Regions from separate parts of the Homo sapiens genome. Here region 1 is linked to region 2. A link means that fine-mapping ties the variant in region 2 to the expression of a gene that starts in the linked region. Tissue or cell type: adrenal gland. Region 2 holds a variant in brackets; the other region holds the start of a gene. All regions are shown on one strand. Distances are between the middles of the regions.

Region 1 (15,637 bases), 78 kb before region 2:
TGGGTTAAGTGGACTGAAAATGCAAATTAAAAGAGAGAAAAAAAAGAATCAAGGTAAACTTTGCTAAGAGTTTGCTCATGTTATTATTTTTAAATGTTTCAAAACATATCAACTGGTTTTTAGACTGCAGTGGATACAGGTAAAGTCTGACATAATAGTTTTATTCTTTTTAATGTCAACATCAAAAGATGACAGAAATTACATCCTTTGAAAGAAATAAATGAGGGGGAAGTTGAGATGATAACTTAAAACTGTATGAGAGAATAAAGAACTAAAAAACAATTTAGGAACTCTTAGGAGAAAACAGCATTGGATTTGGCAATGATTTCTTGGATGACACCAAAAGCACAGACAACAAAATAAAAATATGTAAGTTAGACCTCATCAAAATGAGTACCTTTTATGCATAAAGAACACTATCAACAGAGTGAAAAGGCAACCTACAGAATACGAAAAAAATCTGCAAATCATATACTGATAAGGTATATAAGGTTTTATATATACATACACACACACACATATATACACGCATACATATATATATCTCCAGAATATTTAAAGAACTCCTTTGCAAAACAAGCAAACCAATTAAAAAATAAGCAAAAGATGTGAATAGAGATTTCTCCAAAGATAGACAAATAGCCAATAAACACATGAAAAGATGCTCAACATCACTAGTCATTAGAGAAACGCAAATCAAAACCACAGAGATAACACTTCACACACATTAGGATGGCTACTCACAAAAAAAAAAAAAAAGGAGAAAATAGCAATTGTTGGTGAGGATGTAGAGAAACTGGAATCCTTGTGTGTTGCTGGTGGTAACATAAAATAGTAAGGCAATTCCTCAAAAAGTTAAACACAAAATTTCTATATGATCCAGCAATTCCACTTTTGGGTATACACTCAAAGAAGCGAATGCAGGGACTTGCACAAATATTTGTACTCATGTTCACAGCAGCATTATTCAATTCCCAAAAGGGGAAGCAACCCAAGTGTCCACTGACAGATGAACGGACAAACAAAACATGGTACATACAATGGAATATTATTCCTTCTTGTTTAAAAAAGGAAATTTTAACACATGCTACAATATGGATGAACTCTGAAGATATGCTAAGTGAAATAAGCAAGTCATAAAAGACAAATATGATTAGTCTAGGAATATGAGATTCAGAGAACAGTCACATTCAGAGACAGAAAGTAGAACAGTGGTTGCCAGGGACTAGGAGGAGAGAGGAACTGGGAGTAAGTGTTTAATGGGTACAGAGTTTCAATTCTGGAAGATGAAAAAGTTCTGGAGATGAATGGTGATGATGGTTGCAGAACAATGTGAATGTACTTAATGAACTGTAAGCTTAAAAACGGTTAAAACGGTCAATTTTATGTTATGTATATTTTGGTACATTAAAAAAGAAAATAAATGCTACCATATTCCTGAGGATAAAAAAAGATTTTGTTTCCTTACAAAACAAGAAAAGGGGTGGATGGGGACAATACTAGGAAAAAACATTTCCTAAGAAACTTGGAAGACAATCTTATAAGTGGTATAAGAGAATCTTTGATGTGCATAGTGAACGGCTTGTCATTCTCTCCAAATAAGTACTAGGCAGCAAGAAAGACTCAACAATGTGGGCAAAAAAAAAAAAAAATTATGTGGGAGTCCTCTATATAGAGTATACACTAAAAAATTTTTAAATGCATCTTTCAAAAACAGTTCTAACAAAAGCAATATAAAAATAAAGGCAATACATGCCCATTATTACTGGAAAAATGAAAATGTCACCCTTAATTTCAGCCACTCACAGACAACCTCTTTTAATCTCTTGGTGCAAAAACCATTTTTTTCCTATGCAAACATATTTACATGATTTTAAAACTGAGATAATACTATATGTTTTATAAGTTTTTTCTAGTAATATCAATATTTTTTCATGTCATTAAATATTACTCTAAAAATTTAATGAATGAATAGTATTTCAGCCATTACATGAATCTATTTAACAAATTGCTGAATGTATTATATTTAGGTTGCCTGCAATTTTTTCTGATGTTATAAATATCTCTAGATGAATTATCTTGTGTATATCTTCTTTCCTAAGGAAGACTAGCACAGGTATTAAACCGAAGTCATCTAATTCCCAAGAGGTAAGTTCAACACTGTTAACAGTAATTAACATTGGATGACAGAGATGGGGACTTTCACTTTCTATTTTTCACATTTTCACATGTATTACCAGAAAAAAATTCCTAAAAACTAAAAAACAAAGAGAAAACAAACTTAGTCTGAAATTTTAACCTAGAGATGTAATATTCTCATTTATTCTTTGGCTAAAATCTACTTAAATATTGAGAGCACTTATAGTTCTTTAAAAGTGAAGTTTTAAGAGAGGAAATGTTAGTATTTTGTTAAATTTTAAGTTTCTCACAACCTTGCAGAATCAGTAAGTTAACATAGAGAAAAAGCAGCAATAAAATAACAAAAAAGTTTTCCTAAAGTATACACAGTTGCATAATAAAAATATTCTATGTTATTTTTCACAGAAGACCAAGCTTATTCAAGCTTTAAATTCATTTTTTAAAAAGCATGTTTGGGGGGGAGGTCAGTTGTTTGAGTCAATTCAAATATCAACAAATGAGGTTGAAATAGGATGTACTCAACACAAATTTAGGGCTCCCTGAAAACTTAAACAACAGTATATTCTAATACATGATATACATGTTATATCACTATAGTTGTGATATCCTTCCTTAGTTTTGTCTTTAAACATGAGTTTAAACCACTTCACCATCTACTCGGTAAACTCCAACTTAGTTTCTACCTCCACAGCTCTTTCAGTACATTCACAACTGTCTCCCAATAGCTACATCCAATAGCCTTTTCTCTACCTCACTGAATTCTACAGAACTGATCACTACCTTCTTTATTTATTTTTAGAGATAGGATCTTGCTCCTTCACCCAGGCTGGAGTACAGTGGCACAATCATGGCTCACTGCAGCCTCAACTTCCTGAGCTCAAGAGATCCTCCTGCCTCAGCCTCCCCGGTAGTAGCTGGGGCTACAGGCATGTGCCACCACGCCTGGCTACTGATTATGTATTTTATCTTATTTTATTTTATTATTTTGAGACGGAGTCTTGCTCTGTCGCCCAGGCTGGGGTGCAGTGAGTGTAGCAGCACGATCTCAGCTCACTGCAACCTCTGCCTCCTGGGTTCAAGCGATTCTCTCTCTCAGCCTCCTGAGTAGCTGGGACTAGAGGCAGGCACCACCACACCTAGCTGGTTTTTGTAGAGACAGGGTTTCACCACATTGCCCAGGCTGGTCTTGAACTCCTCGGCTCAAGTTATCCACCTGCCTCGGCCTCCTAAACTGCTGGGATTACAGGTGTGAGCCACCATGCCCAGCCAATTTTTATTTTTTATTTTAGAGATGGTGGGGGCGGGGGGGTGGTCTCACTATGTTGCTCAGGCTGGTCTCGAACTTCTGGTTTCAGGTGATCCTCTCACCTTGGCCTCCCAAAGTGCTGGGATTAGAAGTGTGAGCCACTGTGCCTGGCCAGTACTTTCTTAAAATGCTTCGGTCCCTTGGTTTACTTAATACTCTTAGTTCCATGATTCAACTTCTCACCTTTAAAATACAGGCATTGCTTCAGACCTCCTTAATTCTTTTTGTGCTTTGCTGTTTTCTTCTCTCTCTTTTTTTTTTTTGACACAGAGTCTCGCCCTGTCGCCCACGCTGAAGTGCAGTGGCGCGATCTTGGCTCACTGCAAGCTCCGCCTCCTGGGTTCACGCCATTCTCCTGCCACGGCCTCTAAAGTAGCTGGGATTACAGGAGCCTGCTACCACGCCCGGCTAATTTTTTTTTTTTTTTTGTATTTTTAGTAGAAATGTGGTTTCACCGTGTTAGCCAGGATGGTCTCGATCTCCTGACCTCCTGATCCGCCCGCCTTGGCCTCCCAAAGTGCTGGGATTACAGGTGTGAGCCACCGTGCCCGGCCTGTGCTTTGCTGTTTTCTATTCATCCTCAAGGACAAGCAGTCCCAACCTCTTAGCAATTCTGGCATAAAACTCCCAATGGTCGGCCGGGCGTGGTGGCTCACATCTGTAATCCCAGCACTTTGGGAGGCCAAGGCGGGCGGATCACGAAGTCGGGAGATTGAGACCATCCTGGCTATCACGGTGAAAACCCAGTCTCTACTAAAAATACAAAAACTTAGCCGGGCGTGGTGGCGGGCGCCTGTAGTCCCAGCTACTCAGGAGGCTGAGGCAGGAGAATGGCGTGAACCCAGAAGGAGGAGCTTGCAGTGAGCCCAGATCGCGCCACTGCACTTCAGCCTGGGCGACAGAGCAAGGCTCCGTCTCAAAAACAAAACAAAACAAAACTCCCAATGGTCTACTGCTCACTTCTTTAGCTGGAAACAACGTCTTCCCTCCCTGTGTTCAAACAACTCTCAGATCCTGTGCTGTATTATTGGACATTTTTCTCCATTCCTACTAATACCACCTTAACTTAAACTCTAAGGATCTAGGAATCTAGAATACTTAGTATATGGATACTAGATACTAAGAATCTAGTAATGAGGATAATAATAGTTTATAAACAGGAGAAATATATGTGTCTTATCAAGTACTATGCCTGGTACACAGCAACTGCTATATAAGTGGTAGCTATTACTATTATTTTATATATATATATATATATATATATTTTTTTTTTTTTAGACAGAGTCTTGCTCTCTTGCCCAGGCTGGAGTGCAATGGCGCAATCTCGGCTCACTGCAACCTCTGCCTCCAGGGTTCAAGCAATTCTCCTGCCTCAGCCTCCCCGGCACCTTGGATTACAGGTGCACACTGCCACATCCGGCTAATTTTTGTATTTTTAGTAGAGACGGGATTTCACCATGTTGGCTAGGCTGGTCTTGAACTTCTGATCTCCGGTGATATGCCTGCCTCGGCCTCCCAAACAAAGTGCTAGGATTACAGGCATGAGCCACTGCACCCAGACTACCATTATAATCTTTTAACTGGTCTTCTTAGCTCTAGGTTTTTGTTAACTATAATCCATCCGAAACACTGTCTCATCAGATCCCTGTTCTAGCTCTTCACTGTCTCCCACATAAAGCTGTAACCTCTAAACCTAAAATCAAGGGCCCTTTCTTGCTTATGACTGAATACAGAACTGCCATGTCACCCAATTCCAGGGAACACCATTCACTGCCACACCCAGAAGCTCCCTATCTATGCTTTGTGATACTTCATTAAGCTATATACTTTTCATGTTTCTGTACTGTGTTATGCTTTAAGTTTTTAAAATCTCCTGTATGTTACACATATTGGTGTTGAGTTTTGAGTATCTTTCCAGACTTTCAAATAAACATACAATTTTTAAAATAGTACCTTCTACATACTGCAGAATGTTCTATTTTACCTAACACACAGAAAAGTAAAAATGTAGGTAAACAACCCAAAAGTAGGCCAGGCGCAGTGGCTCACGCCTGTAATCCCAGACTTTGGGAGGCCAAGGCAGGTGGATCACCTGAGGTCAGGAGTTTGATACCCCGTCTCTACTAAAAATACAAAAATTAGCTGGGCATGGTGGCAGGCGCCTGTAATTGGAAGGCGCTTACAGCTACTCCGGAGGCTGAGGCAGGAGAATTGCTTGAATCCACGAGGCAGAGGTTGCAGTGAGCAGAGATTGCGCCACTGCATTCTAGCCTGGGCGACAAAAGCAAAACACAGTCTCAAAAGAAAAAAAAAACCCAAAAGTAATGTACGATCATCATCAATTTAAAAAAAACACCCTACTATCCATCCTTAAGTGACTCTTCAACATGAGAAACAACCCTAAATTTACAGAAACCAAAGAACCTCAGACCTTAGAAAACAAAGAAAGTACAGAAATAGACAATGGCTACTCTGATTCTGGAAGAAAAAGAAACTACAGAAAAGATATCCATAGTCATAAAGTTGGTAGGATGAAAATAGAAGTTTTAAAAAAACAACAAAAAACAAACTTAGACCACCACCACCACAATATTCAGGGAACCCATACAAGTCAGGAAAAAACAAAAACACAAATCTATAAGCCCAGCTGAATGAGAACATATTCAAAATATAAAAATACAATGTAGTTAATAAATAGGTGACTAAAAGTAACTTCAGAACTTGAAGATAAGATCAGCCTGATCAGAGGTAATGAGAAGTTTTGAAAAAAAAAAAAAAAAAAAAAAAAAAGGTCAGCCTGAGATTAGACTAGGAAAAATTCAAGTTAATGAATTAAATGAATAAATGTAACCACCCATAAAAGCAGCCTAGCCTAAGAAATGCTCTGTCAATAAATATGTGGCTGAGGAAACTAAGAAATATCCAAATATAATCAGGGTGATCAGGGAGTGAAGTCTCTGAAATGCATGATTGATGTAAAACAGCAAGGTGTAATCCAACCAAATGTATTGAATGTAAAGCCCCCAAATCAGAAAATATTCCAATTACAGAGGCATGTTTCATTTTTGGTACTGATGGGCTTGTCAGTATGAATACATTACCCCTAAAGACCACCGATTTATTTTAATCCAATCCCATGCTCATTATGTAACACTGTGATTATAATTTGGTCTACACAGACACCTTGATGTATAAAAGGGAGGAGAACTTTGTCTCAAAAAGGTATAATGCCTGCTGGGAACTGTGGTGGGGGTTGAGGGGGATCCTTTCTACCCTACAACATCCAGCAGAGTGCATTCTAATTGCTCAACCACCATATACCACAAATACGGGATTTATGGCAAATAGTCTCTGTATATTGCTGTTAGGTCTCCTCTGCTAGACTTGTATCTCTTTAGAGTAAGAACAATCAACAACAAATATTTAATATACACTTACTTCCTGCTAGGTTCTGTTCTAAGTGCTGGGATAACATTGCCAAAAAAAAAGTCAAAATCCAAGTCCCCGTGCAGTTACATTCTGATTGGGGAAGAGAGAAAAATACTTAAAAATAGAAAAGTACAGAAAATGTTGGAAGGTGACAAGTGCTAGGAGAGGCATGTCAGGAGAGTGGTTTGTAATTTTAAATATGGTGCTTATGGTAAACATCATTGCAAAGGTGAAATTTTAGCAAAGACTTGAGGTAGACAGACTCCTAAATTTGAATCATAGTCACACAGCTTACTATAAGGTGAATTTGGGCAATTTATTTAAGTCTCTGTGCATCAGTTTTCTCATAAAAAAAAAATCTTACCTACCTCATAAGGTTGTAAGGACTGAGTTATTTATTTGTACAATTTCTGGACCACACTAAAGTACTATAATTCCTGAGGTTTTGTTTTTTAGTTTAAAATAATGTAAAAAAAAAAAAAAGTTAAAAGAATGGGTCATGCAGATATCAAGGGGAAGAGTATTTCCAGCAGAGGTATACCAAATGGAAAGGCCCTGGTATTAAAGAAGCAGCTATGCCAGTGTGGCTGGAATAGAGTGCGTTTTGTAAAGGGGTAGAAAAAGATGTCATTATAAAGGATGCAGGGATGCTTAGGGCTGCTTCCAAACTTACAGACTTTTACTTAGATAGGGAGTCTCAAGAGGGTTTTAAGTGATCAACTGTTTTGACTTTTTAAAAGATTCACTGCATTTGCTGGGCGCGGTGGCTCACGCCTCTAATCCCAGCACTTTGGGAGGCCGAGGAGGGCGGATCATGAAGTCAGGAGATCGAGACCACCCTGGCCAACACGGTGAAACCTTGTCTCTACTGAAAATACAAAAAATTAGCCAGGCGTGTTGGCGGGTGCCTGTAGTCCCAGCTACTCCGGGAGGCTGAAGCAGGAGAATGGCGTGAACCCGGGAGGTGGAGCTTGCAGTGAGCCGAGATTGGGCCACTGCACTCCAGCCTGGGTGACAGAGCGAAACTCCATCTCAAAAAAAAAAAAAAAAAGATTCACTGCATTAAGAACTGACTATTGGTGGGGCGTGGTGGTTCACACCTTTAATCCCAGCAATTTGGGAAGCTGAAACTGAAGGATTGCTTGAGTCCAGGAGTTCGAGACCAGCCTGAGCAACATAGTGAGACTCCATTGCTACAAAAAACTTAAAAATGAGCTGGGTGTGGTGGCGAGCCCCTGTAGTTCCAGCTACTTAGAAGGCTGAGGTGGAGAATCACTTGATCCTGGGAGGTTGAGGCTGCAGTGAGCCACGTTGGTGCCACTGCACTCTAACCTGGGTGACAGAGCAAGACTCTGTCTCAAAAATAAATAAATGCATAAATAAAGAGAACTGACTGTTGAGGGAAGGTGGGGCATAATATATATATCAAACAGTGGAAAACGGGAAGGAGGCCAATCAAGAATCTATTATAATCCAGGAAAGATGGTCAGGCGCGGTGGTTCATGCCTGTAATCCCAGCACTTCGGGAGGCTGAGGTGGGCCGATCACCTGAGACCGGGAGTTTGAGATCAGACTGGCCAAAACAGTGAAACACCGTCTCCACCAAAAACACAAAAATTAGGTAGGCGTGGTGGCGCATGCCTGTAATCCCAGCTACTTGGAAGGCTGAGGCAGGAGAGTCACTTGAACCCGGGAGGCGGAAACTGCAGCAAGCCGAGATCACGTCACTGCACTCCAGCCTGGGTGACAGAGCAAGATTCTGTCTCAAAATAATAAATAAATAAATAATCCAGGAAAGAGATTATGGCTTGAACCAGCATGGCAACACTGGAGGACATATAAAGTGGTCAGACTTGGAATATATTTTGAAAGTGGAGCCAACAGAATTTGCTAATGCACTGGATGTGAGGAGTCAACAACAACCTAAGGTTTTTTTTCCTGAGGAACTGAAAAAAAAAAACGGAGTGGCCATTAACTAAAACTGACGATGGTCTTAATAGCTGACAATGACTGAATCCTAACCATATGCTAACTGTTCAATTAATCTCCTTACATACATGATCACATTTAATCCTCACTACCAATGTGGTGGGTATCATCCCATTTAACAAGTGTAGAAACCTGATGATTATTGGTAAACCTGAGAAGCTGAAACTGAAATTCATAATTAACAGTTTTCTTAAGAGTCTATGTATTTGGCCAAGCAGGGTGGCTCAATTCTGTAATCCCAGCATTTTGGGAGGCTGAGGCAAGTGGATCACCTGAGGTCGGAGTTCGAGACCAGCCTGGCCAACATACAGAAACCCTGTCTCTACTAAAAATACAAAAATTAGCCCAGCGTGGTGGTGTATGTCTGTAATCCCAGCTACTTGGGAGGCTGAGGCAGGAGAACTGCTTGAACCCGGGAGGTGGAGGTTGAGGTTGCGGTGAGCCGAGATCACACCAGTGCACTCCAGCCTGGATGAGAGAGTGAGACTCTGTCTCGAAGAAAAAAAAAAGAGCCTATGTATTTAACCAGTATTCAATATATCAGTACGTATCATTATGTTCACAGGATCTAGTGTTACCCTGGACATAAATAATCAATCAGTATTGAAACACATTTTCTGAACACAGGTTAAGTCAAGTAACCAATTCCAGTGCAGAAGTGTTTGGCCTCTCCAGGTCTCTGCCAATTCCTGGCAGATGACTGAGAAACAAATCTTTAAAGTCAGGAAATTACTTGTCTTTTCAATTCAGAATCACAATTTCAGAGACTGAAGGGAGTGTAGTTTTTAACCCATTCCCCTCAGTAGAGTAGCAACCAGAATGGGATGCCCACAAAAGATACTGGCAACTAATTTTATATAGTTATCTAAATACAAGATCTTAATAGAAGACTTAATACAAGACCCTGAAATCGTCTGCTGAACTGAAGAGGATTACATTGTCACTTCCACCACACATTTCCCCTGAGCCTCTCATTCTCATTCCCAAGTTCCCAACCTTCTCTCAGGTCCTATTTTTCCTACTCCATGCCTACCCTCACTCACTCCAACACCTTCAGTCCAGCTATATATTACTTGCTGCCTTAACTAAATTTACTAGCGAGCTTCCCCGACTTCTTCAACCTTCTGTGAATGCTGAAACCCCTCCACCTAGGCCTCTTTCAGCAGCTGGGGTGGGGAGGTGGATGGGAGGGGAGTAACTGCTCAGCTTTAACTCTGCCCTGCAAAAACCGTCACTGCACTTCAGACCTAGAAGCAGCACTTCTTTCAAGAGGACCCTCCTTCCTTCCAAACTTCCCCTATAGACACTGCTTGTAACTGCAGCATGACGGCATAGAAAGGGAACGATTTAGGAGGCAGGCAATCTGAGTTCCAATTTTAGATCTACCCCTTACTGTTTACCTTTTTGAATCCGTTTCTTCATCTGTCAAAGAGATAGCACAACTACGCATTCTCAAAGGGTTATGACGAGGCTTGGAAGCGGGGGGCGTACATGAAATGTTGGTCTTCATCCCTCCACATTATGCAACCTGGTATTATTCACTGCGCTGTTATTACGGAACTCCTCTGGATCGTTAATGGAGGTCAGAGAACCTGAATTACAACCTGTCTGTCCCTGTGCCCCCTCCCCCCCAACGTTTATGGCGCAGACAGAAAGCAGTCAGGGGATGCGTGTTGCCTCCAGGTTGATGCGAACCTAGGGCAGGAGCCTGGGCGATCGATCGGCCAGGGAGTGGGGGGTCGTGCGGGCGGCCGAACAGCCGCGGCTTGGCCCCAGACCGCACTCCGCTGTGGCGGGCTTCGATTTCCTCTTGCGTAAAAGTAGGTGGTGACCAAATGCTTAGTCCTCTCCCGGCCAGCCTCAGCTCAGCGATCCGACCCGCACCTCCGATCCCGAGAGCTTCCATTTTACTCGTCCTCGACCACACTTCTCCCCCGACAACTGTCACCCTGACCGGCGCCGCCCACCCCCAGGCCCCTCCGAGCGCCGGGCTGCCGGCAGTCCCCCCGGGAACCGCCCTGGGAGCCCGCCTCAGGCCCGTACTCACGCCCGCTTTGGCTGTGGTCGCCGCGGGTTTCTTCTGCGCCGCGCCGGCCGAGCGGAGCCGCCTCCGGCCGATGTGCTCCAGACTGAGGAAGTCACTGGACAGGTCCAAGGAGCCCGTGGCCGAGGCCGCGGAGTGGTTGTGCAGCTCCAAGCTGCTGCGGAGAACCACCATCTTCTCTCCCTACTGGCCTCGGCGTGCGCGACCGGAGAGAGATCCAGCTCCAGGCGCTCGCAGCTCTGGCTCTTCCGCGCTCCGAATTCTGGCGCCACAAGCTCCGCGCCAGCGGCCGCAGCGCGCGCGCCCAGAATCCCTCCGCCGTCTGTCCCGCCCACGCCACCACCGTAGAACAGCAGGCTCGAAACTCTCCTCCCATTTGTAGAGCGAAGGAGGCCGGGCCAACGTGGAGAGGAACACAGGCCGACAGTATAGAGGACCTGAGCGGAGAGTCCTGGGGAAAACGCTGACTTCTTTTTCTTCACATAGTTCCGGCTCGCTGAGCTCGGCGGAAGGAGACGGTGGGAGCGGTGCGTAGCCCGTTTGGAATTTTGGCGCGGGACGGCGGCGGGGGAAGGGAGGCCTCTGCGCGCTCTGATTGGCTGGTGGGGTCCGGCGTCTCCTCCCCACCCCTGTTGACACCTGCTTGCTGCTTCCCGCCATCCAGGATTCAAATGCAAAATGCCCAGTCCTTGACTGGAGGGAAATAAAGCACTTGGCCTTTGACAGGTTTTGACTTTGAGCCTTAAGAACTTTTTTTTTTTTTAAATAATTGAGGGCTTGACGAAAACAAGTTAACCACCAAAAAGAAAGAAAACACAAGGAGCTAAAAGCGAGCCAGCAGAGTGCCATCGTTTAGTTAAGGACGCGGGTTCTGTACCCATCTTTGCCATTGATCATCCCACATAGAAGATCTCGAACAAATTATTCACCTCCCTGCATTCTAATTTCCTCACACGCTGAGGCAGGAGAATCGCTTGAAGCCGGGAGGCACAGGTTGCAGTGAGCCAAGATCGTGCCACTGCACTCCAGCCTGGGCAACAGAGCAAGACTCTGTCTCAAAAAAAAAAAAAAAAAAAAAAAAGAACCTGTTTCAAAAAAAAGAGCAGGACTCCCAGTTAAATGTGAAGTTCAGATAAAGAACAAATACTTTTTATACGTATCTCGGAATGTACATATAATCGGAAAGTAACTCCGATTGTAATACCTAAGGCCCTAAAGTACTATTATGATACCTTGGAGCCGTGCTTGCACATAATAAGTGCTCAATAAGCGTTCGCTATTATCACAGAATACAAGAAGATGGCTTCTCTAAGATGGCAGTTACTTGACTACTTTGAAATAGGTAACACGCTGAATGATCAGAATGTCCGAGGGCTCTTAGCGAAATAAACGAAAGCTATTTATTGATTTGGATAACTACAGTTCATTAATTTAATATTTGTTAAATACATATTGAGCCTCTATTATGTACCAGGCATTATTCTAAGCACTGGGGATGCAGCAGTGAATAAAAAGAACAAAAATGCCCTAATGGAACTTAAACTCTAGTGGAAGGTGAAAGACAATAAACTAAATGTAAAAGTTTTAAAGTGGCAAGCATTACAGAGAAATATAAAGTAGGGAAGGGGGAGGGAAGAGTGCAATTTAAAATAGGGTGATTAGGGAAGGTCTGGCTGAGAAGTCTGACAAAGGCCTAAAGGTTAGATGGTTCTGGAAGAAGAGAGAGGCGGGAAGCAGGAAGGGGAGAGTGGCGAGGCCAATGAGAACAGAGCCACTGGGAGCAGGTCCTACGGGACTCTGGGTCTTAGTTTGAAACTTTTGAGGGCTTTTATTATAGCCCCCAAATTCCCATCCAAACCCTGAGATGAAAAGACATCTCAGGGTTTTGAACAGAGGTTTGACTTATTCCGACTTTAAAAATAATCTGCGTGGCTGCTGAATGAAGAATGCAATGTCTGGGGACATATAAAAAGTATTTGTTGTTTATCTGAACTTCGCATTTAACTGGGAGTCCTGCTTTTTTTTTGAGAGAGGTTCTTGTTCTTTTTTTTTTTTTTTTTTTTTTGAGACAGAATCTTGCTCTGTTGCCCAGGCTGGAGTGCAGTGGCATGATCTCAGCTAACTGCAACCTCTGCCTCCCGGGTTCAAGCGATTGTCCTGCCTAAGCCTCCAGAGTAGCTGGTATTACAGGCGTGCACCACCATGCCCAGCTAATTTTTGTATTTTTAGTAGAGATGGGGTCTTACCATGCTGGCCAGGCTGGTCTCGAACTACTGACCTCAGGTGATCCACCTGCCTTGGCCTCCCAAAGTTCTAGGATTACAGGCGTGAGCTACCGTCCCCAGGAAGACAGATTATTGTTCTGTCACCCAGGCTGGAGTGCAGTGGCGCAGCCACGGTTCACTGCAGCTTTGACCTCCAGGGCTCAAGCAATCCTTCCACCTCAGCCTCCCTAGTAGCTGGGACCACAGGTGTGTGCCATCACACCTGGCTAATTTGTTTTTAGAGACGGGGTCTCACTCTGTTGCCCAGGCTGGTCTCAAACTCCTGGCCTCAAGCAATCCTCCCACCACAGCCTCCCAAAGCCTGGGATTACAGGTGTGAGCCACCATGCCCAAACAATTTTTCTGATTTTTCTTGCATGAATATGCTTCACTTTTACAATAGAAAAAAACTTTAAAATAATTGTTTAACCAACATAGGTGAAAAAGAAAGGAACAATATTTAAAGTAGTACAGTTTAAAAAATTTAAAAAGTAGCAGAGTTTACTATTACTTGGTTTTAAAATACTATTTATGGCTGGGCACGGTGGCTCACGCCTGTAATCCCCCCACTTTGGGAGGCCGAGGTGGGCAGATCACGAGGTCAAGAGATTGAGACCATCTTGGTCAACATGGTGAAACCCCGTCTCTACTGAAAATACAAAAAATTAGCTGGGCGTGGTGGTGCACGCCTGTAGCCCCAGCTACTCAGGAGGCTGAGGCAGGGGGATTGCTTGAACCTGGGAGGCAGAGGTTGCAGTGAGCCGAGATGGCACCACTGCACTCCAACCTGGCGACACAGCAAGACTCCGTCTCAAAAAAAAAAAAAACCACACGACTATATACTGTATATACCATCTCATTTGATTTGTTTATTCAGGAAATTTTAATTGAGCCCCCATCTTATTCTAAGCATAGTTAGAGGTGCAGGGAGTAAAGCAGTGAACCAGGAACCCTAGGTTCATGGAGCTTACATTCTAAGAGGTACTCAGTGGATAAACAAGGAAGTAAATAAACAAGGTAACTTCATTATAGCAAGTGGTATAAAGAAAATGAAACAGGGTCATGTGATACAGAGTGGTTGAAGGAAGAGGAGAGAAACATACAGTGGACTTGAAAGGTCAATCTGAGGCCAGGCGGGGCGGCTCACACCTGTAATCCCAGCACTTTGGGAGGCCGAGGTGGGTATCACCTGAGGTCGGGAGTTCTAGAGCAGCCTGACCAACATGGAGAAACCCCATCTCTACCAAAAATACAAAATTAGCTGGGCATGGTGGCGGGCACCTGTAATCCCAGCTACTCAGGAGGCTGAGGCAGAAGAATTTCTTGAACCTGGGAGGCAGAGGTTGCGGTGAGCCGAGATTACGCCATTGCACTCCAGCTTGGGCAACAAGAGCGAAACTCCATCTCAAAAAAAGAAGGAAAGAAAGAAAGGTCTGAGGCCAGGCATGTGTCACACCTGTAATCCCAGCACTTTGGGAGGGCGAGGCAGGCAGATTGCTTGAGGTCAGGAGTTCGAGACTAGCCTGGCCAACATGGCAAAACCTTGTCTCTACTAGAAATACAAAAATTAGCCAGGCATGGTGGCACACACTTGTAATCCCAGCTACTTGGGAGGCTGAGGCAGGAGAACTGCTTGAACCCGTGAGGCAGAGGTTGCAGTGAGCCAAGATCATGCCACTGCACTCCAGCCTTGGCGACAGAGTGGGACTCCAGCTCAAAAATAAATAAATAAAAAAGAAAGATCAGTCTGAGGAGGCGACATTTTAGATGACACGTAAAATATGAGAAGGAATCAGCCGATCAAAAAATTGGCAGGGTTTTCCAGAGAATGGGAAGAACAAGTGCAAAGGCCCTGAGGTAGGAAGTCCAAAATAGTTGAAAATGCTTCCAGAACTTCAAAGATAGAATTCCCCAGGGAGCTTATTAAACACACTACACAAAGCCAGGTGTGGTGGTGCGGGCCTGTAGTACCAGCTACTTGGGAGGCTGAGGTGGGAGGATCGCTTGAGCCCAGCAGTTCCAAACCATTCGGGGGAACATAGTGAGACCCAGTCTCAAAAAAATAGCCTGCCCTGGCAGGCTGGCAGCCGAGCGGGTGTTTATGTTGGGTCGCCGGGTCTCTGGCAGCCTGACAGACTACCTGATGAGCCAGGGCACCGGCTGCGTGCCCGAGGACGGGCTCACCACGCAGCAGCTCTTCGCCAGAGCCGACAGCCTCACCTACAACGAGTTCCTGATTCTCCCAGGATTCATAGACTTCATAGCTGATGAGGCGGACCTCACCTCAGCCCTTACCTGGAAGATCACGCTGAAGACGCCGCTGATCTCCTCCTCCATGGACACTGTGACAGAGGGCAACATGGCCATCACGATGGCTCTGGTGGGAGGTATTGGTTTCATTCACCACAACTGCACCCCAGAGTTCCAGGCCAAGGAGGTGCGGAAGGTCAAGAAGTTTGAACATGG
Region 2 (15,637 bases):
AATCCCTACTCAGCCAATCCCCAGAGACCTCTAGAGCTGGGATGGTGATATTTGGTTGTGTCCCCACCCAAATCTCATCTTGAATTGTAGCTGCCATAATTCCTACTTGTCGTGGGAGGGACCTGGTGGGAGGTAATTGAATCATGGGGGCATGTCTTTCCTGTGCTGTTCTCATGATAGTGAATACATCTCACGAGATCTGATGGTTTTATAAAGGGGACTCCCCCGCACATGCTGTCTTGCCTGCCGCCATGTTAAGACGTGACTTTGCTTTTCCTTCACCTTCCACCATGATTGTGAGGCCTCCCTAGCCATGTGGAACTGTGAATCCATTAAACCTCTTTCCTTTATAAATTATCCTGTCTCAGGTATGTGTTTATTAGCAGTGTGAGAACAGACTAATAGAGATGGTCTTGCAGAGTTGTTCCCTTCTGGAGCAAGGAGGCTGGGTCTTTATACCCCTAAAGGGACCAGTCAATGGATGCAGGTTGCCCCTGGGACAGAGATGTGATCACGGTAACTCCCTTCAGCTTAGAGCAATTTTCAGAGAGACTTGGAATAGAAATGAGGGCCTGAAGGGGATATTTGGGCAGGGACCACAGCATCCATAACAGCAGGGAAATGCTCGTGAACATGTTGCCTAACCCTGGATGCCCTCAGACTGAATACACGAGAGGTCAGAGTGGCAGCGGCATGAGGAGGAGGAAGGGTAGAGAGACGCCACTGGAGAGAGCATTGCCAGGCTGTGCCTCCACTCTCCCTCCCCAGGGGTAAGGGCCAGGAGTGCTACCACCTTCACCTCAAGGGTACGATGGGGGCTCTGATAGGACCACATATTTAACTTACATATTTCCTATGGTTGAGAAATATGTAACTGGCTAGAGTGGCCTGTGGCAGCAGGACACAGAGGGCTGGGTTTGGTCCTGTGTTCCCAGGGTTTGTTGGGGCAAGAGATGAGAGAGTGTTTCCTGGGACTTAAATGTGGGCCCTTGGCTGGGCACTGTGGCTCACGCCTGTAATCTCAGCACTTTGGGAGGCGGATCACTTGAGGTCAGGAGTTCGAGACCAGCCTGGCCAACATAGTGAAACCCTGTCTCTACTAAAAATATAAAAATTAGCTGGGTGTGGTATCATGCGCCTGTAATCCTAGCTACTTGGAAGGCTGAGGCACGAGAATCACTTGAACCTGGGAGATGGAGGTTGCAGTGAGCCCAGATCACACCACTGCACTCCTGCCTGGGCAACAGAGACAGATTCTGTCTCAGGAAAAAAAAGTGTGGGCCCCAGGGGAGAGACGATACTGAGCCAGAGCCATTTTTAAAACCCTTTTATTTTGAACGAATTTAAGACTCAGAAGAAATTGCAAAAATAAAAGGGAGTTCCATGTACCCTTCATCTGGCTTTCCCCATTGATAATGTAGAACCACCGTACATTTTCAAAACTAGGAAATTGACATTGACATTGACACAATACTGTGAACTAAACTATAGACCTTGATTTTCATGAATTTTGACATGCTCTTGTGTGTGCATGTGTATAAACAGTACTGTGAAATCTTGTCACACATATAGATATGTGTAATCACTACCAAAACAAGGACACCGTCACCAGCTTCCGTCACTGCAGAGAAACTCCCTCATACTAAAGCTTTGTAGTCAGGCCCTCCTGCCAACCCTAACCCCTGGCGACCACTCATCTGTTCTCTATCACCAGAATTTTGTCATTTTAAGAGTGTTCTGTAAATGGAATTGTATAGTACGTACCCTTTTGAGATTGCTTTTTTCACTCAGCATAACATCTTTTTTTTTTTTTTTTTTTTTTTTTGAGACAGAGTCTTGCTCTGTCACTCAGGCTGGAGTGCAGTGGCACGATCTTGGCTCACTGCAAACTTTGCCTCCTGGGTTCAAGCAATTCTTGTGCCTCAGCTTCCTGAGTAGCTGGGATTACAGGCGCCCGCCACCATGCCAGGCTAATTTTTGTGTTTTCAGTAGAGATGGGGTTTCACCATGTTGCCCAGGCTGGTCTCGGAACTCCAGGGCTCAAGCGATCCACCCACCTCGGCCTCCCAAAGTGTTGGGATTACAGGTGTGAGCCACTGCACCCAGCCAGCATGACATCTTTGAGTTCCATCCATATTGTTGCCTGTGTCAGTAGTTCATTCTTTCTCTATAACTTAGAGTTGTATTCTGTTGTATACCCATTCACAGTTTGTCATTCTGCATGAAAGTCATTTTAAATCCTGTCCAAGAGGACCCTCTGGGAGGGTGAGAGGAAGCCAAAGAGTGAAGTCTGAGTGGACGGGATTGCCAGAGAACCAGGGGCTGAGGGCAATAGCAGCTGGAATGGAATGCTTCTCCCTTGTTCTGAGAATTACAACTGGAGAGGTTCCCAGAGATGGGAATCACCAAAGATCCCAAGAAAAGTGCCCCAAGTGAGAGGCAGCTTTATATAGCTGCAAAGCCCAGTGAGCAGGAAGTCAGCTTACAACTGTGCCACTCAGAAGCCAATTAAAGTAGCTCCAGACATAACCACTTACCTCTTTGCCGTCTGTCCATTTGGGCATGGGATCCAAGCCAGTAGCTAGTGAGTGGAGGAGGATTATGGCGCATGGTGCAAGACAGAAGAAAATGACTACTTTCCCCTCACCTCCCTGGGAACTGCCAGCTCTCGCAAAGAAGGGGAAGAAATCTTTTGAGTGAAAATGGAATTGTTGATGAATAGAATGAACTGACTCACTGAATTACTCTAGTAAGACCATGTTTGTGACTTGATGTGACCATCAGACTGTCATTACTTGAAAGTGACACAGCAGGCAGGAGCCTGCAATTGTTTTCATCTGGAGTGAGGACAAGATTCTTTTCTCCTGCTGCCCCTCCTCCCTTTTCCCCCCTGGCAAACTGTATACATGGATGTGCAAATATCTCTTTGAGATCTTGTTTTCAGTTCTTTTGGATATATACCAAGGAATGGGATTGCTGGTCATATAATTGCTGGTAATTCTAGTTTTAATTTTTTGAGGAACCTCCATTCTGTTTTCCATGGGCGATACCATTTTACAGTAAAGGGATGATGGAAGAAAAACAATAAAGTGGCATTTTGATTATGTTACCCTATCAGTTACATAAATAACTTGGAAATAAACATCTTCTATATATAAGTTCTTTTTTTAATAGTATAATTTTCCTTAGAGCAAATTCCTGAGCATGGTATTAATAGGTCAAAGGACCAGGAAATGTTTGTGGTTCTTGAAACATATTCCAAATTGCTTTTCTTTCTTTCTTTTTCCTTTTTTTTTTTTCTCAGTCTGTTGTCCAGGCTGGAGTGCAGTTGCGTGATCCCGGCTCACTGCAAGCTCCGCCTCCTGGGTTCAAGTGATCCTCAGCCTCCCTCAGCTGGAACTACAGGCATGCACCACCATGCCCGGCTAATTTTTGTATTTTTAGTGAGATGGGGTTCCGCCATGTTGGTGAAGCTAGTGTTGAACTCCTGGCCTCAAGTGATCGACCTGCCTTGGCCTCCTAAACTGCTGGGATTACAGGAATGAGCCACTGCGCCCGGCCGCCAAATTGCTTTTCTAAATGTTTGTGCCAACTTACATTCCCACCAGATATTGTATGAAGGTTTTATCACATATTCAATGGCATGAGATAGTGTTATGAGATTGTTAATGTAATGGGATTTAAGTACCATTTTGATGTTTGAAATAATTTTTAAAGTGTTTTCATAAAATAATTCTTGCATTAAGTGTTTTATCAATGTCTTTAAGCTTGGCTTTAGTATCTTGAGTATAGAATGTAGCTGAGGGTCTGATTTCATAAATTAATTACTGGCCATTCATATCCAGGTTCCAGAGGGTTCCTTGGAGCAGTTAGAACCAGACCAAATCCTGTAGAATTGTGAGCAAGGAAGAAAGGGAGAGGCAAGGGCCAGAGGAGCAGTGAATATGAGAGACAGGTTCAAGGTATCTATTTTTATTTTATTTGTTTATTTAGAGATGGAGTTTTGCTCTTGTTGCCCAGGCTGAAGTGCAATGGCACGGTCTCGGCTCACTGCAACCTCTGCCTCCCGGGTTCAAGCGATTCTCCTGCCTCAGCCTCCCAAGTAGCTAGGGTCACAGGCGCCAGCCACCACTCCCCGCTAATTTTGTATTTTTAGTAGAGACAGGGTTTGCCATGTTGGTCAGGCTGGTCTCGAACTCCTGACCTCAAGTGATCCACCCGCCTTCACCTCCCAAAGTGCTGGAGGTTCAGGATCTCTAAATGAGAGGTAAACAAACTGAAGCAGGAGGCCAGATCAAGGAGATGCCCACCATGATGTCAGGAGGTGAGTTGGGAAAGGGCCTCAGGAGATAGGGATTCTTGCGTGGCCCCCAAAGGGGGTAGTGGGGTAGGGAATAAGCTTCCTCCTACCCTAAGCACCAATAAATTCAAAACTTTATTTATGTATTTATCTATTTATGGTAAAAATATAACATAAAACTCACTATCTTAAAGTGTACAGTAGTGTTAAGTATATTTGCATCATCATGCCACAGATCTCCAGAAGTTTTCATCTTGCAAATGGAAACTCTGTACTCATCAAACAACTCCCCATTTTCCTCTCTCCATATCCCCCCACTAACTGCCATTCTACTTTCTGTTTCTATCAGTTTAACTACTTTAGATACCTCGTATACGTGGAATCATAAAGCATTTATCTGCATTATTTTACTTAGCTTAATGTCCTCCAGTTTCATTCATGTTATAGTGTATGATAGGATTTTCTTATTTTGAAGGACTGAATAATATTCCATTGTATGTATATATCACATTTGCTTTATCATTTTTTCCATCACTGAACATTTAGGTTCCATCCACCTCTTGGCTATTGTGAATAATACTGCAAGCGACATAGATGTGCAAATATCTCTGTGAGATCTTGTTTTCAGTTCTTTTGGATATATATCAAGGAATGGGATTGCTGGTCATATAGTTGCTGGTAATTCTATTTTTAATTTTTTGAGGAACCTCCATTCTGTTTTCCATGGGCTCTACCATTTTACATTCCACAAACAGTGCACAAGTGTTTTAATTTCTTTATGTCTTTACCAGCAAGCACTTGTTATACAGTCTCCCTTCTTTCTTTTCATAGTGGGCATCCTAATGGGAGTGAGGTGATATCTCCTTGTGGTTTTCAGTTGCATTTTTCTGATGATTAGTAATGCGAACATCTTTTCATGTGCTTGTTGGCCATTTGTATATCACTTTTGGAGACATGTCTGTTCAAGTACTTTGCCCGTTTTTTAATTGGGTTATTTGATTTTTGTTGTTGAGTTGAGGGAATTCTTTATATATTCTAGATATTAGTCCCTTCTCAGATGTATTATATGAGCATATTTTCTTCAATTCCATAAGTTGCCTTTTCACTATATTGATTGTATCTTTTGGTGCACAAAAGTTTTTAAGTTTGATATAATTCCATTTGTCTACTTTTGCTTTTTGTTGCCTATGCATTTAGTGTCATACCAAGAAATCATTGGAAATATGTTTTTTCATTTGTTTAAGCCTGTAGGAGGAAATACGGTTTGAGTGAACTTTAACATCTTGGAAAAGTAAGCCTTGGTCAAGCTTACAGACAAGAGACTAGGCTGGTTATTCATCCTGTGAAACAGCCCTACAAATTTACCTACACCATGGAATCCAAGATCCCACTGATAATGTGAACTTACTCCTTTTTGTTTGTCTTCTCCCTTCTAATGTTAATTTTTTTAACTGCAGGAAAAATAACAAAATAACAGAATTCTTCTTTTATAAGATAGATTTGGGAGCATGTACTGATCTTTTGAGTGAGGTGGAGAGGTCAAAATAAAAATACTAAAATGTGAATAAAACTTTGAGACTTAGATGGAGACCTAGTTAAACCTTTTCTTCAAATGCCATCAATGCCAAAGAGCAGCAGTTGTTTTACTAATTCATTCACCAAAAGTGATTATCAAACGTCTACTATGTTCTGGGCACTAACTAGCCAAGGCAATATAGGTGTGTATAAGAGGCAAGTCTCTGCTGTCTGTGAGTCTATGCAGAATCTCGTCTTCCGTTAGAAGCATCAACAAACATGTATTGCCTGCCCTCCCTCTGCTAGAAGTTTGGGGAGACATGTTATGGACTAAATGTTTGTGTCCCCCAAAATGTACATGTTGAAGCCTTAACGCCCAATGTGATGGTATTTGGAAGTGAGGCTTTTGGGAGGTAATTAGATATAAATGAGGTCATGAAGGTGTGGTCCCCATGATGGGATTAGTGGCCTTATAAGAAAAGAGACAAGAGAGGTTCTTCTCTTTTTCTGCCACATGAGGACACAGTAAGAAGGCAGCTATCTACAAGCCAAGAAGAGGGTCCTCACTAGGAACTGAAGCCTGCTGGACCTTGATTTTGAAATTTCCAGGCTTCAGAGCTGGGATTCCTGTGTTTAAGCCACCACCCAGTCTATGGTATTTTGTATGGCAGCCGAAACAGACTAATACAAGGCATAAGGGACAGTGAGATGCTGTTCATCCTCTCAAGGGTTCGTGAACTTGTTACCGTGGCCTCCGCAGTCCCTGTGTTCACTTATCTTTGCTAAGGGCAAATCACTGATGAGATGGACGCATTTTATAACTGGAGAATAAAAGGGATGAGGCCCTACAGGCTGAGGGTTACAACCAGGTGTCTGAAGGAGTCAGTGTCCCAAAGAGTGAGAATAGTGGAGTGTGTAAGTGGAGAATAACCAGGTAGGTGCTTAAAAGTGAACCTGTGTTGACTGTATTCACTTATTTCATAAGACAACTTTTGGAGGCCAGACACACCACCTTTAAAAAGTAATTGTATAAGTGTCCTAGTGCTGTGCATGAAGTCCCATAAACTGGGTGCTTTTTAAACACCCAGTTGTTTTTACAATAGAAGTTTATTTTCCCACAGTTCTGGAGGCTGGAAGTCCAAAATCAAGGTGTCATCAAGCCTATGCTTCATTTGAAAACTAGAGGGGAGAATCCTTTCTTGCCTCTTTTAGCTTCTGGTGTTTGGTGGTAATCCTTGGTGTTTCTTGGCTTGTAGATGCTTCACTCCCATCCCTGCCTCCAAAGTCATATCGTCATCCTCTCCCTGTGTGTTTCTCCTT[CCTTTTTT/C]CTTTTTTTTTTTTCTTTTTTTGAGACAGGATAGCACGCTGTTGCTCAGGCTGGAGTGCAGTGGCATGATCATAGCTCACTGCAACCTTGACTTCCTGGGCTCAGGTGATCCTCCTGCCTCAGCCTCCCAAGTAGCTGGGACTACAGGCATGCACCACCATGCCTGGCAAATTAAAAAAAGATTTTTTTTTTTTGGTAGAGACGGGGTCTTGTTATGTTGCCCAGGCTGGTCTCGAACTGCTGGGCTCAATCAGTCCTCCTGCCTTGGCCTCCCAAAGTGCTGAGATTACTGGTGTGAGCCACCATGCCTTGCCTCTGCTTCCTCTTATAAGGACATCAGTCATACCAGGTTAAAGGCTCACTCTACTCCACTGTGACCTCATCTCAAATAAACTAATTACATCTGCAACAACATGATTTCCAAGTAAGGTCACATTCTGTGGTACTGGGTATTAGGACTTTGTTGTAGTCAGGGTTCTCCAGAGAAACAGAGCCAATAGGATGGTTCCGTCTCTATAGATAGAAATAAATTTATTATAAGGAGTTGGCTCACATGATTATGGAGGCTGGAAAGTCCCAAGATCTGCATAGTGAATCAACAAGCTGGAGACCCAGTGGTTTAGTTCCAGGCTATGTCCAAAGACCTGAGATCCAGGAGAGCTAATGGTATAGTTTCAGTCTGAAGTCCAGCAGGCTTGAGACCCAGGGAGAGCTGATGTTTCAGTTCAAGTACAAAGACAGGAAAAAATTAATGTCCCAGCTCAAAGGCAGTCAAGGAGAAACTCTCTCTTACTCAAGGGAGAATGAGCTTTTTATTCTATTTAGACCTTCAATGATTGGATGAGGGCCACCCACATTAGGGAGGGTAATCTGGTTTACTCTGTCTACCAATATAAGTGTTACTCTCATCCAAAAACACTCTCACACAAACCCCCAGGATAATGTTTGATTAAATATCTGGGCACCCCATGACCCAGTTAAGTTGACACGTAAAATTAACCATCACACTTTAAAATATCTTTTTGGGAAGCACAATTCAACCCATAAAAGTAATAATCATGCCTAGAGAACTTTTTTAGTTGAAGAGATAGAAAGTTTAATTCAAATCTGTACCTGTTGCTTTGTACTGTTATTTGATAGGGGTCTTACCCCACTCCTATCCATCAAGGCTGGCAGAGGCTATTTTCCAGGATTTTAGGGTTGCTGGCAGCTGGGCAGTGACTCAGGAGAGTTGTGAGTGGGGACAGAAAGGAAGGAAGTATGCCAAACAGTGCTAAAAAATATCCAAAGCTAAGAAATGTGTAATTAGCCCTGACCTCCTTTGCCCTTCCTCCTTACTAAAGCAGAGTGGGTGAAATGGCTCATGGGTTATTAATTGCCCTCTGCTGGTCACTTTACAGGCATGGCTTCCCATTTGCTTACTTTATTTTCTAGGGATGTCAGCAAATTACCACAAACTTGATGACTTAAAGCAACAGTAATATATTGTCTCATAGTTCTGGAAGTTAGAAGTCTAAAATCAAGGTGTCACAGGGTCCATGCTCCATCTGAAGTTGTCCAGGGACTGAAGTGTCCAATCCTTCCTTGCCTATCCCTAGTTTCTGGTGGTTCCTGGCAATCCTGGTGTTCCTTGGCTTGCAGCTGGCTCCCCACAATATCTGCCTCCATTTTACATGGCCTTCCCTCTGTTTCTCTGTGTGCCCTCTCTTATAAAAACAGCAGTCATTGGATTTAAGGTCCACCATAATCCAGCATGACTTTATTTTAAGTTAATTACATTTGCAGAAACCCTGTTTCCAAACATGTCACATTCTAAAGTTCTGGATAGACATGCATTTTGAGGGAGATGCTATTCAACCCCCTATACTAAAACTCTTTTTCTGTGGAAGAGAAAGAGGCAGGGAGAGTAACTTGTCCAGATCACTGTTAAGTGGTTGAGCTGAGCTTTCATGTGTACTCATTAGCCAAAGTGTCTTCCTTCTTCCCCTCTGCCCTCTTCCCTCTTTCCTTTCATCGCCTATTTTCTTATCCAAGGATGCCCTGGATATTAGTTTACCTTCATTTGAATGGAGAAAAATGCCCATTGTTAACTGTTAACTGTTGGGGTGAGGGGATGGGAAGGTGTTCAGTGGAAGGTCTCTCAATCTCCTTGAGAGTTAGTTTACTTTTTTTGCAAAAATGGAGAAAATGAAACTTGTCTCATTTGGTGGTTGCATGTATTATTAAATCACATACAACCGATCACAAAATCAATGTGTAAGAAAGTGTCTGGGAAAATCTTCCAAGGCATACAGCCCTGAGGGACTTTTGTAGAAAATCATTTAGAAAGTAAGGCATCCATTACTCACCTAGGGTATTAATTAATTTGTATTCTTGAAATTCTTTTTTTTTTTTTTTGAGATGGAGTCTTGCTCTGTTGCTTAGGCTGGAGTGCAGTGGCGCGATCTTGGCTCACTGCAACTTCCGTGCCCTGGGCTCAACCAATTCTCCTGCCTCAGCCTCCCAAGTAACTGGGACTACAGGCACATGCCACCACACCTGGCTAATTTTTGTATTTTTAGTAGAGACGGTTTCACCATGTTGCCTAGGCTGGTCTCGAACTCCTGACCTCAACTGATCTGGCCTTGGCTTCCCAACGTGCTGGGATTATAGGCATGAGCCACCATGCCCGGCCTGTATTTTTGAATTTCTACATTGTTGACATGCCTTGAAGTCTTAGACGATGAGCAAGAAACAGAAATCATGTAGCACATATATTCAACATTCCCACGTAATTTTAGGTTTCTATTTGGTCTCTTTCAAGCGGTAAGTAATTTACTTTGATCTTCTCTGCTAGGTTATAACAAAAGTTGACATTGTAGCTCTGCCACTCACTAGAAATATCATCTTGTTTATGTTATTTAACTTTATGACCTCTAATTGTGAAGGTTAAAGGAAAGAGCACATATAAAAGCTCCTGGTACATTATGGTTAGTCAGGAAGTAAAAGTTTTTTTTTTAAATTGCATTGTTATTATTATTACTGTTATTATTAATATCATTGGTATGCAAGACACTGAGTTATACATATTTGACTTGTGAACATATTTGTTATTTTAAAAATTGAAATAATTTGTCTTAAAAAAGTTACAAAAATAGTACAGACAATTCCCATATATTTCGTCACCCAGCTTCCCCTACTGTTTAACATCTTACATAAGCACAGTATGATGATCAACACTGGGAAATTAACATTGCTACAATACTATTAAGTAAACTATAGATTTGACTTGAATTTGCAGGTTTTCCCATTAACGGTTTTTTCTGATCCAGGATCCAAACCTTGATCTCCAATTGAACTTAGTTATGAGAAGGAGACAAACTTAGTCTTTTATAACTTAGTTTTTCCTTGTCTTTCATGATTTTGACACTTCTGAGGAAAGCTGGTCAGTAACCTTGTAGAATGCCCTCCAATTTGGCTTTGTCTGTATTTTCTCTGATTAAATTGAGATAATACAATTTTGGCAAGAATACCTCAGAAGTAATGTTGTGTCCTTTCTCATACACCATATCCAGAAGTACACAATGCTAGTATATATTATTACTGGTGAAATTAACATTGATCTCTGGGTTAAAGTGGTGTCTTCCAGGTTTCTCCACTAAATTACCATTTTTCCCTCAGTGACTAACAGATATCTTGGGGAAATACTTTAAAACTACGCAAATATTGCCAGGCGTGGTGGCGTATGCCTGTAATCCTAGCACTGTGGGAGGCCAAGGTGGGCGGATCACTTGAGGTCAGGAGTTCGAGACCAGCCTGGCCAACATGGTGAAACCTTGTCTCTACCAAAAAGTGGTGGTGTGCGCCTATAATCCCAGCTACTTGGGAGGCTGAGGCAGGAGAATAGCTTGAACCCAGGAGGAGGAGGTTGCAGTGAGCCGAGATCCTGCCATTGCACTCTAGCCTGGGGGATAAGAGCAAAACTCTGTCTCAAAACAAAAACAAAAACAAAACTATGCAAATATCCTGTTTCTTGTACCTTCACCCACTAGTTTTAGCATCTATGGATGATTCTTGCCTGCCACAATTATTACTATGGCATTTGCCTATTAGTGATTTTCTGTTTCCTTCATTTCTTCTCTATTAATAGGAATTCTTCTCTAAGAGAGAGTTATTCTCCTCCCTCATTTATTTTTTTATATCAATATGGGCTGATGAATATTTATTTTATTTTATGGGTTATAATCGAACACTGTCATTATTTATTTTGTTGCTCCAGTGGTTCCAGCTCTGGGCATTAGGAGCTTAAACAGGTTGGCTCCTGTATCCTTTCAACATGCCTCATTATTTTTAGTGCTTTCTTGCTTTTTGATGCTTACTTTTTAATCTAGGCTCATCTTGTACTTTCTTTGCCCCAACCATGGAATTGATCTTTTCTCCAAAGAACTCTGATTCCTTTTATTGGAAAATGGACTTAGGAACCAAGATCTTGGCATTGAGTAGTCTCATTGCTACTGGGGTTTCATTGCTTCTGCGTCCTCTCAGTGGACAGAGTTTGGAAATATATGCAGGTATGCTAACACACATACATATGTTTATATTTGTAAATTATAAAATTGTATAATTTTAAATTTCTGTATTATAAAATTATACATATGTTATAAATCTATGTTTATTTCAACATATATCTGTATAACTATTAAGGACCACAATGAATACATTCAAAGGTAAATGTGTGAATATCTCTAAGGCATACTTCTACTTATCTCCTAATAATAAAGAGAGTAGGTCCATTACACTATTGCAGAGTCATTAGTACTTGTTTACTTTCAAGTTTTATGTTGTAATTCAGATAGCTGAGGTTGTCAGAGAAGAGACCTAGCCTTATGTAATTCTGGAACCAGAAAAAGAAATCATGGAACTATCCAATTCATGTTTCCTAAACTGGTGTTCCATGGAATACTATTTTAGGAGTTGTTAATAGCATTATCCTGATCAAAGGGTTTTGCGGTTCCATAAGTTTGGGAAACAGCATTGTAGATCCTCCACACTTGTGTGACACTGCCAATGGATTATTTTATTTATATGTTTATTTATTTTTAGGGATGGGGTCTTGCCAGGTTGCCCAGGCTGGCCTCAAACTCCTGGGCCCAAGCAGTCCTCCCACTTCAGTCTCCTGAGTTGCGAGATTACAGGTGTGAGACACCATGCCCAGCATGCCTATGGATTATTAAAGGAGTTTTTAAAAATTTGTTTTCCAGGCTGGGTGCAGTGGCTCACAGTGGTAATCCCAGCACTTTGGGAGGCTGAGGCAGGTGGATCGTTTCAGTCCAGGAGTTTGAGACCAGCCTGGGCAACATGGCAAAAACCTGTCTCTAAAAAAATACAAAAGAAGTTAGCTGTGTCCACTCCTGTAGTCTCAGCTACTCAGGAGGCTGAGGTGGGAGGATTGCTTGAGTCTTGGAGGGAGGGGTTGTAGCAAGCTGAGATCACAGCACTGCATTCCAGCCTGGGCAACAGAGTGAGACCCTGTCTCAAAAAATTTTTTTTTTTTTTTTTTTTTTTACAGAGTAATTCTGTGTTCAAAACAAAATACTTGTCTAATAATTTTATGGAGGCAGAAGATAGAAAAAAAGAAAAAGTAAAATCAAATCTGTATGCATTTTCTGTTGCACAAATTTATTTAAGGTTAAATGTTGGTATGTGCAATAACCTGAAAAGTTTCAAGTACTATAATTGTGATCAGATTTTTTGTTTGGATAGGCTGCCATAAGCTTGTCTTCAAGTGGCTTTTAAAACCTAAATTGCATTAGCTTTACAAGGGGCAAATATATTCTTTAGAAAAAAGGTGTTCTCTATTCCTGCCATTGAAATATTGCTTCACAAAACTTATGGCACAACTAACAAAAAAGGTAAAAAATCCTATTTCAAAGTAGTCATTTTGTGGACAAAGGTAGAAACCTATAATCTTTCCTCCACCACAGCATTTCATATTTAAACCTTCTATTTTTAACCTGATGGTGGGATTCATGGCTAATGCTTATGAGATCTGTGTCTAGACAGTTGAGAAAAACAGGAAATGAGTTACATTGTCCTAGTAACCTTTTGTTTTCTAGCTCCAAGCTGTGCTTGCTTTAAAAAAATATTCCTTCTCTCCTGAGAATTTCAGGGAATTTAAGGAACTATAATAATCCAAGGCCTCTTCAGGGAGCAGAGATAGCTGTTTTGGTGGAAAAGGAAATGAGAACATGAGTTTACTATGCTTGGACCATAAAAGTGAATGCAGCCATTCTAAGAACATGTTTGCTGTCCTCTTCTGATTGCAAACGTGCTCCCAGCTATCTCTGACTGTGTGATCCTAAAGGGCAGGAACTCATTCTCCCTCTGTGCTGGACACATTGATGCTTTAGGACATAAAATGACCCTCAGAAGAGCAAGTTAAGAAGAGACAGCTGACATTTATGGAACACTTTTCTATGTGTCAGGCACTGAGCTAAGCACATTACATGCATTATCTTATTTAATCCTCAGAGCAATCATTCCTAAGGTGTGTTTACTACTATTGCCCCCATTATTTTTTTTTTCTTGAAACAGGGTCTCTCTCTGTCACCCAGGCTGGAGTGCAATGGCATGATCTTGTCTCACTGCAACCTCTTCCTCCCAGGTTCAAACCATTCTTGTGCCACAGTCTCCCGAGTAGCTGGGATTACAGGCATGCACCAGCACGCCTACCTTTTTTTTTTTTTTTTTTTTTTTTGGTATTTTTAGTAGAGACAGGGTTTCATCATGTTGGCCAGGCTGTTCTTAAACTCATGAGCTCGTGATCTGCCCACCTTGGCCTCCCAAAATGCTATGATTATAGGTGTGAGCCAGTGCGCCCAGCCTATTGCCCCCATTTTACAGATGAAGAAATGAAAGCACAGAGAAGGTAAGGAATTTGCAACAGTAGCATAACTGGCATTTGAACCCAAATCAGTATGATTTTATAACCTATGTTCTTACTTGGTATGCTATACCCTTGTAGGGCTGTTGTGAAGATTACAGGACACAACGTAATGTATGTAACAAACTTATCAAAGGCCCAGGTCCATGATAAGCATCACAATTAATTCCAGGTATTATTTACATGTGTAAGCAAAATAATGCTGGTTTTTCATATAAGTAGGTGATGCTACTCATCCTCTTGACGTATTAATAAGACACGCAGCACTTAATGCTCTTAAGTATCTAATTATTTGAAAAGAATTGAATAGCAGTAGTGATGATTGGTGCTAAATATATTTATATTATGCAGCATTTCAGTGAGGCTGAAGATACAATAATGGTGACAGTTGATTGGGTTAGAGAGTTTGTAAACAAGTAAAGGAAACTGGTCTACACTGAGATAAAGTCTGCAATGTTGACCGTATTAACCATTGCTTCATAGAGTCTATAAAATGACCATATAACGTATGTAACAAATATTGCACCAAATGCCTGCTTTCTCAGACTCAAAGCCTGTAGGGACACAATATTAGGTAAGACTTAATCCTTTTGCTCATGGAATTTACAGTCTAGTAGAGAATTAAAAATAAAAAGAAATCTTTGCAAATTATGATAAGTGCCACCAAGAAAATAATCAAAGAGTTAAGATACAGAGTAATGGAGTTGGGACATGGGGAGGAGGGTCTGGATCCTACTTTGTATGGGGTAGTAAAGAAAGGCTTCCTGTAGTAGGTGACATTTAAGACCAGATGATGGGAAAGAACCTAGGAAGAGGGAACAACACACACAAAAGCTCTGAGGTGGGGAAGAGCTTGACAAGTTCGAGGAGCTGGAGGATTGTTACCCATATAATGGTTGGGTTCAGTTGCTTGGTGGGTGAACATCTTTACAGATGAAGAAATGAAAGTACAGACAAGGAATTTGCAAGAGTAGCAACTGACATTTGAACCTAAATCAATATGATTCCATATAACATATGTTCTTAGTTGGTATGCTATACCCTTGTAGGGCTATTGTGAACCCAGTGACCACAATGAAGGAGAATGTAACAATGGGGTTTTAGTACTTGCAACAAGTAAGAACACTGGGGACAGTTCCCAAAGTAGTGTCTCCTGGAATGAAGGTGAAAGCAGGGCTTTTATTGTGCCACTGGCTGAGTCATTGCATATAAAGGTGGGGTAAAGGTAGTGCAGGTGCAGGCGCAGATTCTGCTTCTTCACACATGGCATGTATTGAAAATGGTAAATAGAAAAATATCGACAGGCTCAGGGAAAATGCTGGCTTCAGTCCCGAGTGGCTACAATGCCTCTTTAATAAATTCCAGTCTTCTTTATGGAATCGGTTAACCCCTTTATTAAGCCCTCTCTTGCTTTTATGTCTTGTATTGATATTTGGACCCTGCATACACAATACTATAACTCAAATTGTTTCTTCTCTCCTAGAAGGAATCAATTTCCAAATAGTGCTGTAAACTGAACCACACATGGACACGCCATTCTTCCGAGGACCCTTAGATCGGCCCCAGGAGGAGC

Alleles and levels. Positions count from the first base shown, and alleles are read on the strand shown. Sizes are in standard deviations (SD) of each study's normalised expression.
With allele C in place of CCTTTTTT in region 2, the expression in adrenal gland of the gene that starts at base 11,171 in region 1 is higher (moderate effect, 0.42 SD a copy in GTEx).

The links. PIP is the estimated chance that this variant, and not a neighbour inherited with it, causes the effect. A credible set is the group of variants that fine-mapping cannot tell apart.
Region 1: ATAD2 starts here. The variant in region 2 is the best candidate, but not a certain one, in a credible set for the expression of ATAD2 in adrenal gland (GTEx, PIP 0.53).

What each region holds. Positions count from the first base shown.
Region 1 is chr8:123,385,277-123,400,913 of GRCh38, forward strand. ATAD2 (ATPase family AAA domain containing 2) reads right to left here and starts at 11,171. Exons shown (of 28, transcript NM_014109.4): 1 at 10,911-11,171. The coding sequence starts at 11,081. It also overlaps the pseudogene IMPDH1P6. RefSeq lists enhancers at 7,743-8,243, 10,118-10,257, 11,028-11,077, 11,128-11,297, 11,313-11,607 and a silencer at 10,688-10,867.
Region 2 is chr8:123,463,775-123,479,411 of GRCh38, forward strand. It overlaps a transcript of NTAQ1 not described here. Among named protein-coding and RNA genes, the nearest start is that of NTAQ1, 55 kb to the left of the region's middle. RefSeq lists an enhancer at 15,426-15,637. The variant CCTTTTTT/C (reference allele first, on the strand shown) is at 7,136.